Regions from separate parts of the Homo sapiens genome. Here region 1 is linked to region 2. The links come from fine-mapping of genetic effects on gene expression. A gene starts in region 2. The other region holds a variant in brackets. All regions are shown on one strand. Distances are from middle to middle.

What was found.
Region 1: its variant is fine-mapped to the expression of AP2B1 in sun-exposed skin (GTEx, PIP above 0.99). The same link has a PIP of 0.9 or more in unexposed skin.

The regions. Positions count from the first base shown.
Region 1 is chr17:35,643,282-35,648,668 of GRCh38, reverse strand. All of the region lies in intron 12 of AP2B1 (adaptor related protein complex 2 subunit beta 1), which reads right to left. Among named protein-coding and RNA genes, the nearest start is that of AP2B1, 59 kb to the right of the region's middle. The variant A/G (reference allele first, on the strand shown) is at 2,026.
Region 2 is chr17:35,584,243-35,589,629 of GRCh38, reverse strand. AP2B1 (adaptor related protein complex 2 subunit beta 1) reads right to left here and starts at 2,308. Exons shown (of 22, transcript NM_001030006.2): 1 at 2,202-2,308. RefSeq lists enhancers at 1,792-1,901, 1,163-2,362, 2,332-2,501 and a silencer at 2,132-2,251.

The sequences.
Region 1 (5,387 bases), 59 kb before region 2:
ACTTTTCCACTGTAATGCCCACTGCACCATTAATTATTAGTCCACTATTGAGGGACATTTTCACTGTTGCCCATTTTTCCCTTTCTACCTTTATTATTGTTTTATTTGTATGTATGTATGTATGTATGTATGTATGTATGTATGCATGTATTTTGAGACAGAGTCTTGTTCTGTCACCCAGGCTGGAGTACAGTGGCGTATCTCGGCTCACTGCAACCTCTGCCTCTCGGGTTCAAGTGATTCTCCTGCCTCTGTCTCCCAAGTAGCTGGGATTATTGGTACGCACCACCACACCCAGCTAATTTTTGTATTTTTAGTAGAGACAGGGTTTTTCTATGTTGGCCAGGCTGGTCTTGAACTCCTGACTTTAAGTCATCCGCCCACCTCAGCCTCTCAAAGTGCTAGGATTACAGGCATAAGCCACCGTGTCTGGCCTATTGTTTTCTTTATTGTTTTTGTCATCATTATAAAGTGGCAATAAATATCCTGGTACCTACCTCAAAAGTATGTCTATATGATGGCATTTATTTATGCACGAGTTGTTCCAACAGCAACTTATTAAAGGCAACAATAAGTCCCTGTTTCAATTTCTATATTTCAAACTCATAACCAGACCGGGTACAGTGGCTCATGCCTGTAGTCCCAGCTACTCAGGAGGCTGAGGCAGAAGAATCATTTGAACCCAGGAGGTGGAGGTTGCATTGAGCTGAGATCAAGTCACTGCAGTCCAGCCTGGATGACAGAGTGAGACTCTGTCTCAAAAGAAAAAAAAAAAAACAAACCCCCAAAACCCAAAAAACTCATAACCAAACAAAAAACATTTTCTTTAAAACAGGACAATCTGAGGGCTTCCATTTTAGTTTCTAAGCGAGCAGATGAATTGATTCACGATTTAGCCACTTAAGGCCCTTATCATCCAGTTCAATAGCAGTAGTTACCCTGATGTTTTTGACTATATAGATTTAAATGGTTTTTCTCAGTCACAGATTGTTTAAATTGCACTCATAATGGATTGGTGGTTAAAGACGAAAAGCATATAGAACATTGCAATACAGCAAATTAATAAAATATTAAAACAGTAAATTTTATCTCAAGATAATCTTTACATTTATAACTTGCATTATTCTAATAGAAATGTGTGTATGTGTATATGTATATGTATACATATGAATGTCTTATCAAAATGTCTCTAGTATTTGAAATGCCCGGGTTAAAAAAAAGAAACAGTGATAATTATATCTAATTTAGTTGATTTTGTTTGTGTGTGTGTGGGGAGGGGGGGCACTGAGGGACTAATTTGCTCCTAAGTGTTTATAAATAGCAGCCTGAAACCTCCTCATTTAGATCTTCATTTGAAAACAAAGCTTGAACATTATAAAACAAAAACAAGTTGATATTTTTAAAAGAGCAGAATACAAGTTTCTCAAAATATCAGGTCAGGGAAGCAACTCCTCTCTCCCACATTTTTTTATATGTAACTTAAACGTTAAATTTTAACCTATATATGCAGTCCTTAAGGCACATGTACTTTAGAATTTGTAAAGTATGGTTTTTATTACATAATTAAACACTGCATTTATCTTATTAACTTAGAAAATTCAGTTTGTCTTTATGGACTAGTAATATCTTAAAGGTATTCAACTTTATAATACATAGTTTAATAATATACTCATCAAAATAAAATGCTTTTTCTTCAAATTATTTCTCCCATATGTAATGTAAACAATTTAACCAAATGACCAAAAAGAAAAATTCCTATAGGGATTCACAAAATTCAAAAATCTCAGCCAGGCACGGTGGCTCAGTAATCCTAGCACTTCAGGAGGCCAAGGTAGGCTGATCACTTGAGGCCAGGGGTTTGAGACCAGCCTGGCCAAGATGGCAAAATCCCATCTCTACAAAGGGTACAAAAATTAGCCAGGCATGGTGGCAGATGTCTGTAATCCCAGCTACTTGGGAGGCTAAGGAGGGAGAATCACTTGAACCCAGGAGGCGGAGGAGGCTGCAGTGAGCTGAGATTGCACC[A/G]CCGCACTCCAGCCTGGGTAACAGAGTGAGACTCCATCTCAAAAAAAAAAAAAAAAATTATATATATATGAAAAAAATTTGAGAGTTCCTCTACAGATTATTCAAAATGCTGCAATATGGCAAACTACTGGAGATAGAGTTACTGGATCAAAGTCTAAACAGACACTAACTTGAAAAATACAATCCTATGAGAAATGAGTGCAAATCTCCCAAGGCTGAAAAGTCAGGAGTAGGGAAGAATCTCCTAACTGCTCAAACTCTGTCGTTCTGAGGGATGACCTGTTAGGCCTACTGTAAGCCAGTCCTCACCAACTGCCTCACATTTTACATGGAGGCCACAGTAATTCAGACCGTCAAGACCGAGATAAATAAAAATACAGGACCTTTTTGTAATCTTAAGTTGCCATTAAATGTTTGGTGACTCAGATAATTTGGCTTTGGATCTACTGTACTGCTAGACCCATAGGCCTTCCTCAGGGGAAGAGGTCCCAAAACAATACTTACCAGGCCAGCACTAAAACAGTAATTCTTAAACTATAATGTGCATCAACATTTTAACATACCAGGAATGCCACTGAAAGTGCAGAACCCAGGGGCCATACTTCAGAGATTCTGATTCATTACATCAAAAGTAGGGCCTAGTAATTAGTATTTTTAACAAGCAGCCCAAATGATTCTGATGATGGTGGCCCCTAGTTCATAGACAGAAAAACATGAAGACTTCTATTCCATGTATCACAAAGAATAATTACTAACGTCTAGACATTTTTTTGTTTTGTTTTGTTTTGTTTTTTGAGACAGAGTCTAGGTCTTCTTGCCCAGGCTGGAGTGTAATGGCACGATCTTGGCTCACTGCAACCTCTGCCTCCCGGGTTCAAGTGATTCTCCTGCCTCAGCCTCCCGAGTAGTTGGGATTACAGGCGCATGCCACCACGCTCGGCTAATTTTATATTTTTAGTAGAGATGGGGTTTCTCCATTTTGGTCAGGCTGGTCTCGAACTCCTGACCTCAGATGATCTACCTGCCTCGGCTTCCCAAAGTGCTGGGATTACAGGCATAAGCCACCATGCCCGGCCTTTGTTTGTATTCTTTACTCAGTTGAACTGAATATTGTATTGAATTTCTGTGTAACAGGTAAGAGAAAAAGATAAATTTTTGAAATGAAGCCTCAGATTCAAGGGTTGGGTTTTTCCCCCTAACTAATAATATTTTTAATTATACTCCCATTTTACTTAAAAGCACTAAGATTTCACATATACTTCACTTAATTCTCAGCACAGGTAAAGAACAGTATTAATTAACTCTACTATAGAGACAGAAGAAAAGCAGTATGAAAGAAATTTGCTCAGTCATGTCCAGAATCAGTGGAAGTAGCATCATCAGAACCTCACTACCCAATTTAAGTTAACATGTGCTCGCTTCGGCAGCACATATACCAATTTAAGTTAACACAATTCAGCCGACCACATTGCATCCTAAACTTAAATTGGTACTCACTAGCCATAAATATTTAGGTTCTTATTTCACAAACTTGGGGAAAAAACAGAAAACTTCCAGGTAAAAAGACTTACATAGGCATACTTATTCTTTTTTTCTTTCTTTTTTTTTTTCCGAGACAGAGTCTTGCTGTATTACCCAGCCTGGAGTGCAGTGGCATGATCTCAGCTCACTGCAACCTCTGCCTCCTGGGCTCAAGCGATCCTCCCACCTCAACCTCCCAAGTAGCTGGGATTACAGGCGTGTGCCACTATGCTCCGCTAATTTTTGTATTTTTTGTAGAGATGGGATTTTGCCATGTTGCACAGGCTGGTCGAATTCCTGAGTTCAAGTGATCCGCCCGCCTTGGCCTCCCAAAGTGCTGGAATTGCAGGTGTGAGCCACAGCACCCAGCAGCATACTTACTGTTTTATGATAACTTCTCAGACTTCATTAATTAATTGGACAGAAAAAGCAAGCCTCAGCCAGGCTCTGTGGCTCACACTTATAATCCCAGTGCTTTGGGAGACCAAGGCAGGAGGATCACATTAGATCAGGAGTTCAAGACCAGCCTGGCCAACATGGTGAACCCTCATCTCTACTGGAAAAAAAAAAAAAAAAAATTAGCTGGGCGTGGTGGCATGCACCTGTAATCCCAGCTACTCAGGAAGCTGAGGTAGGAGAATTGTTTGAACCCGGGAGGTGGAGGTTGCAGTGAGCCGAGATCACGCCACTGCACTCCAGCCTGGGTGACAGAGCTAGACTCAGTCTTGAAAAAAGGCAAGCCTCGAGAAGTTGCTTATTATTTATAGTATGAAATAATCATCCACAAAGACCTTAAAACTAGCAAACACACATATACATATGGGCTTATGCTCAATATTGCTTCAGGCAGGGAATAGGTATTCTCCAAGTCATTCTTAACCTTCAGACTAGAGAGGAAGCATAGCACAGTGGACAAGACCATGGGCAAGACCTAGAGCCAGACTATCTGAGTCTGAGTCCTAGTTCTGCCCCATAATAATTAGGCCTCTCTGAGTTTCCTCATCTATAAAATAGAAATCGTTTACTAACCCTTACTAGGATTAAGTGAGTTTCTAGCCTGTCCTGTTCTAGGAAGCTTATGAAAAATGCATCTAAGGCTAAAGAGCGTTAATTAAACCCAGAGTCAGGAAACTGCATGCCACAGTGGCCTACATAGTTTCCATGGGAGATTGTTAAATGTGATTCTAAGGTTTCAAACAACCAATATGGAAAAGAAAGCTGATCAGGCATGCTACACTGATACACAGAAAAATCCAAAACTTGTTAGAAATTTGATGGGGCTTCATAAAGAAGAAAACATAATGAAGTAAGTAATGACTCTGATAACAAGCTAACAACAGATCCAAATAGGGTAGTTTCCCATGACGACTGTTATTACTACAGACTGATAGTATTTTAGTATCAGCGTAATTTAGTAAAAGCAATTTTATTAGGGGTCAAAAACAATGCAGTCCAGGTATCCAGATGTCTATTAATAATGCTTGATTCAGAGGTGAATTTCAGACTATCTGTAAGAACAGCACTACCTTGTATCCTTTAAGCAATCCTTCCTAAATACTTTATCTCAGTCAAATTTTGATAAATACTTAAGAGGTAATGAGACTGAGTTTGAAGTCTGGCCAGAATTCGTAATACAGCTCTCCTATGGTGCCTGTTAAATACAATCACATAGGCTTTAACAGACAATGATGATAAGGTTGAGAACTTGTGAAAACAGAGGAAACTACTAAACATACTTGCTTGAATATTTACAGTAAGCAGAGAGGAAGAAAGGCCAAAATTCTCTTTAGAAATTGTTTTGACAGAATGTGAGCTGCTCTAATAATGTCATTCTATGTGAC
Region 2 (5,387 bases):
GATGTCACTGCATTTCGGAGAAGGCCTCCCTGCACAGGACTATATATCCAGATTTAACATAACCTAGTTTCTACCAAATATAGGTTGTCAAAGTCCCTCCTCTCCTATATCTCCCTCCAGTTCCCCAAAAGAGAAACTGAGCAGCAAAATAAGATTAATACCTTGGGTAGAATAAGGTCAGAAAAAAATTAATAGGGTCTTAATTCAAATGGCTCTCTGGGAAGCTAAATTAGTTTGTAAAGTCACTAAACCCTTCTTTTCACAAAGTGGGACTTTACAAAGCTCAGTGCTCATAGTGAAAAACTGGCCAAAGTTAACCAAATTATAAAGCAGAAATGTCATTCCAGTAATCTTTTATTATAAAGGTGAGAGGTGCCAAATTCATTTCTAATCAAATATTCAGTAATAATGCAAAGACAATAGCATCATCAGGTATTACCTTGCTCATAAGAAATTATGAGACACAAAAGCTAAAATCACCTGTGATTTCTATTTAAACATAACAGACTACAAAGTAGCTTCTTAATATTATAACGAAGCAAAGGAGTTCAAAAGTTTTACATCTAATTCTTAACCAAAATAACATTAAACTCTGGAAAACCTAAGGCTAGAAGGAAAGAAAGGACAAGAGAAAGGAGAACGTGCCCTATTTAATATATTCCTTGCTCAGCTTCGTTCAAACCTGTGCCTAAAAAGTTAGTATTTCAAAATATGGATCTTTTAAGGAAAGAAAGAATGAAAGAACTGGACTTCCTTGAGTTTCTTCATACACAGTCAGAATATTAGATTTATATTGATTTTACCACCCAGCTTTTAGTGAGGATGTTTGCATTATACATCATCCTTTCTGCTTCCTTGAAAGTTTCAACGGCTAAGATACTGCAAACAGTTCTCACCTTACCAGCACGCTTAGTCATCACTGGAATGTCTTAACACGTTTTCTTATAGAGCTGCACCTCCTTCATCTGCTGCTTTCTATTACTACTTTGTAAGTGTACCCTGAGGCTAAGCAATTGAAGTATACAAGGAAGGTAACTAATCATTTAAATTGATTCTCATTGAGACCACCTTCTTTCTTAGTCATTCTGCCTTTCTAAGCTTAATGCATTTACTTTCTTTTAAACCACAATGGTTATGATAAGTCTTTGGCAGTTTTCAAAACATTTTTTCTTCTCAAAAGTCAAGTTTGGCTGGGCGCGCTGGCTCACGCCTGTAATCACAAAACTTTAGGAGGCCGAAGCGGGAGGATCGCTTGGGCCCAGGAGTTCGAGACCAGACTGGGCTACACAGTAAGACCCTGTCACTAAAAATACAAAAATAAAATAAAATAAAAGTCAAAAGTTTAATGAAGCATCCGCGTGAGTTCAATAAAGGCCTGTCCCCCCCCACCCCACCCCTCCAATAGAAGACTACTCTTGAAAACAAGCAGCATGAACAAATGATTTGGATTCAAATGATAAGGAAATAACAGGACGTTCCAGTTTCTTTACTTTCAGCTTAATCTACAGCCTTTCCCAAACCAGACCATTACTGCAGAGCCCAGAAAAAGAAAAAAAAAAAAAAGATGCTGGGTTAAGATTTGCCCCCATTTGCTTCCCCCTCTCTTACATCGGGTCAATTCTGGAGGTTACTCTTTCCTTCCTCCAAGAGTAAGGAATGCCTCTTCTTTCCCCAGGTGGTCAAGATTCTAGCGATATGCTCCTCCATTACGGAGCAGGGAAGAGGTTGTCTCTTACCCTCAAGTTACCCGAGAGACGACGTTCGCCCATCAATGAGCAAACCTTTGAGGGAATCCCTTTTCCCTTTGGCTTGCTGGACACGTCTCAGCCTCTCAGTGAACGACGCCGAGCGGGGAAGAAAGACGGTTCCCCCCACGGCCTCCAGGCTCTATCAGCCACACCCCTGGCCTCTGGTCCCCCTAAACCCTCAATTCCGAAACACATCTTCCCCTCCTGCCCCCAACTACCTGCTGCCACACCCGAGGATTCCCTCACCGCACCACAGGCATCATGGTAGAGACCCTTTCTCCAACCTTTTCCCTCTCAATGGTCACACCCGACGGTTCCCTGCATCATCAACGGTCACGCTCTTAGGATTTCCTCGCCTCCGCCGGTCTCCGACCCAGCCTGGTGTTACCCTTCTCTCCGTCCCCGACCCCGTCAATTAGGGACACACCCTAAAGGCAACCGCCCTGAACTCACCGGAGGCGGAGGCGAAGGCGAGGGCGGGGGTGGCGGCGGGAGCCGGAGAGCACAGCCCAGGTGGTGGTGTAATGGTTTCCTGCCCGTCACGATTCTTTTCTAGGTCTAAGCCACTGCGCAAAACCCACTTTGCCAGGGACAAAGATGGTGGGCAGGAAACTCTGACGTCAGAGAACGTCGCCGCGTGACGTCATCGGGGTGCGCGGTAGACCTAGAAAGCCTGTGATCTCTTGTCGCCTTCCAGACCCAAAGATTTCCTTTGGTCCCGGCAAGCTAGCCCATCTGGGCCTCAGAGGATGTTAAGTGGCTACTCCAAAGGGATATATTTTAAAAAGCTGACAATGGATTTGTTTCCTCGCACAGAAATTCTCTGAAAAACGTAAACATAGAGATGATGAAATATCCTGTTCCTTTCTGAAAAAACAAAACCCCTCAGCTCATTTTCCTTCCAGGCTCAAGGGCGGACAATGGTGATATAGCCCAGGCCTATATACGGGCAGTGGGGCTAGAGGATAGTGCTGCACGTAAAAGAGGTTGAGGAGGCATTGGATGTGAGTTTGAATCCCTACCCTGAATGTGACTGAGACAGTTAATGTCTCATCAACCTTCTTATCTGTGAAATGAAGACAATGATAGTATCTCTCTCGGGCATGTGAAGTTTAAACCAGATAAATTAGGTAAAGTGCCTAGTATATAATAGGTGTGCTTACACAAAAGTAAGTTTCTTTCGGACACTAAGAGCTAGATTCCAGGACCTGGAACTGGAGAACAAGATTGATGATGTTAAATGAACTAGCTGTCCCTAAGGTTAATTTCAGGGTGTAAGGAAGGATGGAGAGCAAAGTGATGATTTTTCTCACATTTTGCCTATGAACTCTGTGAGTCAAAAAGTGTTTCAGTATTTTAAAACTTCATTCTTAAAAAAGTGATCAGAAGTACATTAAAATTTTGTATAACATACTCATGTATTATTATTTCCTCTGTTATTAAAATAGGGGAATAGGGGAAATTAGAAAGCCAGGTATAAGGTGAGAGAATGCAAACAGTTATGGTAAATCAGATAGCTGCATAATGTTATAGAATATTTTATGACAGAAAATTCATAAAGTGTTAAGCAAAAAAAGGACACCAAACAATACAGTATACAGTATGACTATATATGTATAGAAAAAAAAGGCTAGGATAGGCCAGGCGTGGTGGCTTACACCTGCAATCCCAGCCCTTTAGGAGGCTGAGGTGGGTGGATCACCTGATGTCGGGAGTTTGAGACCAGCCTGGCCAATGTGGTGAAACCCTGTCTCTACTGAAAAAACAAAAATTAGCTGGGGGTGGTGGCACACGCCTATAATCCCGGCTACTCAGGCGGCTGAGGCAGGAGAATGGCTTGATCCCAGGAGGTAGAGGTTGCAATGAGCCCAGATCTCGCCACTGCACTCCAGCCTGAGTAACAAAGCCAGACTCATCTCAAAAGAAAAAAAAAAAAAAAAAGCTTGGATATTCAGCAGAACGTTAAAAGTGGTTATTGCAGGATAGTGAGAGTTTTATTTTTCTTCCTAATATTTTTCTGTATTTTTCAAAGTGTTCTACAATGAACATGTATTTATTTCTATGTTGGGATGTGCCTTTTAAATCATATTGTTGAAAAATATGATACAGAAAAATGCTTTGAAATAAGAAAAAAAAAAAGATACAAAACTCTAAATCCAGAGGAGTATATATACCTATTAGTGGTTCCCTCTGGGTGCTGATTACAAATGTTATCTTCTTTATATTTGTTTTATTTTCCATTCCTTTCTCTGAAAAATGCATATATTTTAAGGAAAAATGAACCAATACTATTTTCAAAATATAGCATCAATCCGAAAGCTTTTCCAACTTCATTCTCTTCCACTTTTGGGTGAAAGTATGGACCAATCTCCCTTCTTTTCACCTTTTGGGACCATCACGGGCTCATAATCTAATGGGAGACCACTCAGGAAACTGTTGACATGATCCAGCCACACGATGATGGTGGTTTAAACAAATAACTGTTGATATTTATTATGATTTTATGTCAGTTACTCTGCTAAGTACATTTTTACATCCGCACCACCTGATAACCAAGTAGGTACTATTACTTCCTCTATTTTAAGAGATACAGAGAAGTTAAAAGGTAGAATTAAGATGGCTGGGCGCGGTGGCTCACGCCTGTAATCCCAACACTTTGGGAGGCTGAGGCGGGCAGATCACGAGGTCAGGAGATCGAGACCATCCTGGCTAACATGGTGAAACCTCATCTCTACTAAAAATACAAAAAAAAAGTAGCAGGGCGTGGTGGCGGGCGCCTATAGTCCCAGCTATTCAGGAGGCTGAGGCAGGAGAATGGCATGAACCTGGAAGGCGGAGCTTGCAGTCACACACACAGACACGCACACACACATACACACACACAAAGGTAGAATTAAGATTTGAACCCAGGAAGTCTGACACTAGGGCTGATAAGGCTTATGTTTTAGGTTAGGGCAAGGGAGGAACGGTGGTACTAGTCACTGAAAATAGGAAAATATAAGAAATGGCAGAAGTTTGGGGAAGAATAGGGAGGTGATGAGTTCATTTTATACGTTAGGTTAGAGTGAAGATCTCTACCCAAGAGGTACTTGATTATATGTGTCTGAAGATAAGGAATGATCTGGAGTTAAATTTGTGAACTGTGAGCATACAGATGATAATTCAATCTGTGGGCATGAACATTATTCATGAAGAATGTGGAGAGTGAGTGCTTGGGGTAGAAACAGATAAACCCAAGAATGCAAAGAGGACTGAGAAGGAGTAGTCAGAGAGGTAGGAGGAAAAGCAGAATAGTATATTTTAGGATGTTTTCAGAGTTTCATGAAAGTAGGGACTATACCAATCTGTTCACTCTTGCACACATGAGGCTAGCCCCATCACACACACACACACAAATTAATATATGTTGACTAAACGCATAAATAAGTGATCAACAATATTAGTTGCCATAGACAGGAGAAGGGCTAAAAAGTGTCTACAGGATTTAGTAACATGGAGGTATTTGATGTTATTGCTGAGAAATCAGTAGAGATATGAAGGCAAAAGTCATACTGCAGATGTTTGAGGATGGATTAGAAATGAGGAAATAAAAACAGGAGTTGCAGATAACTCATAAGAAAGTATGACCAAAGAAAGCAG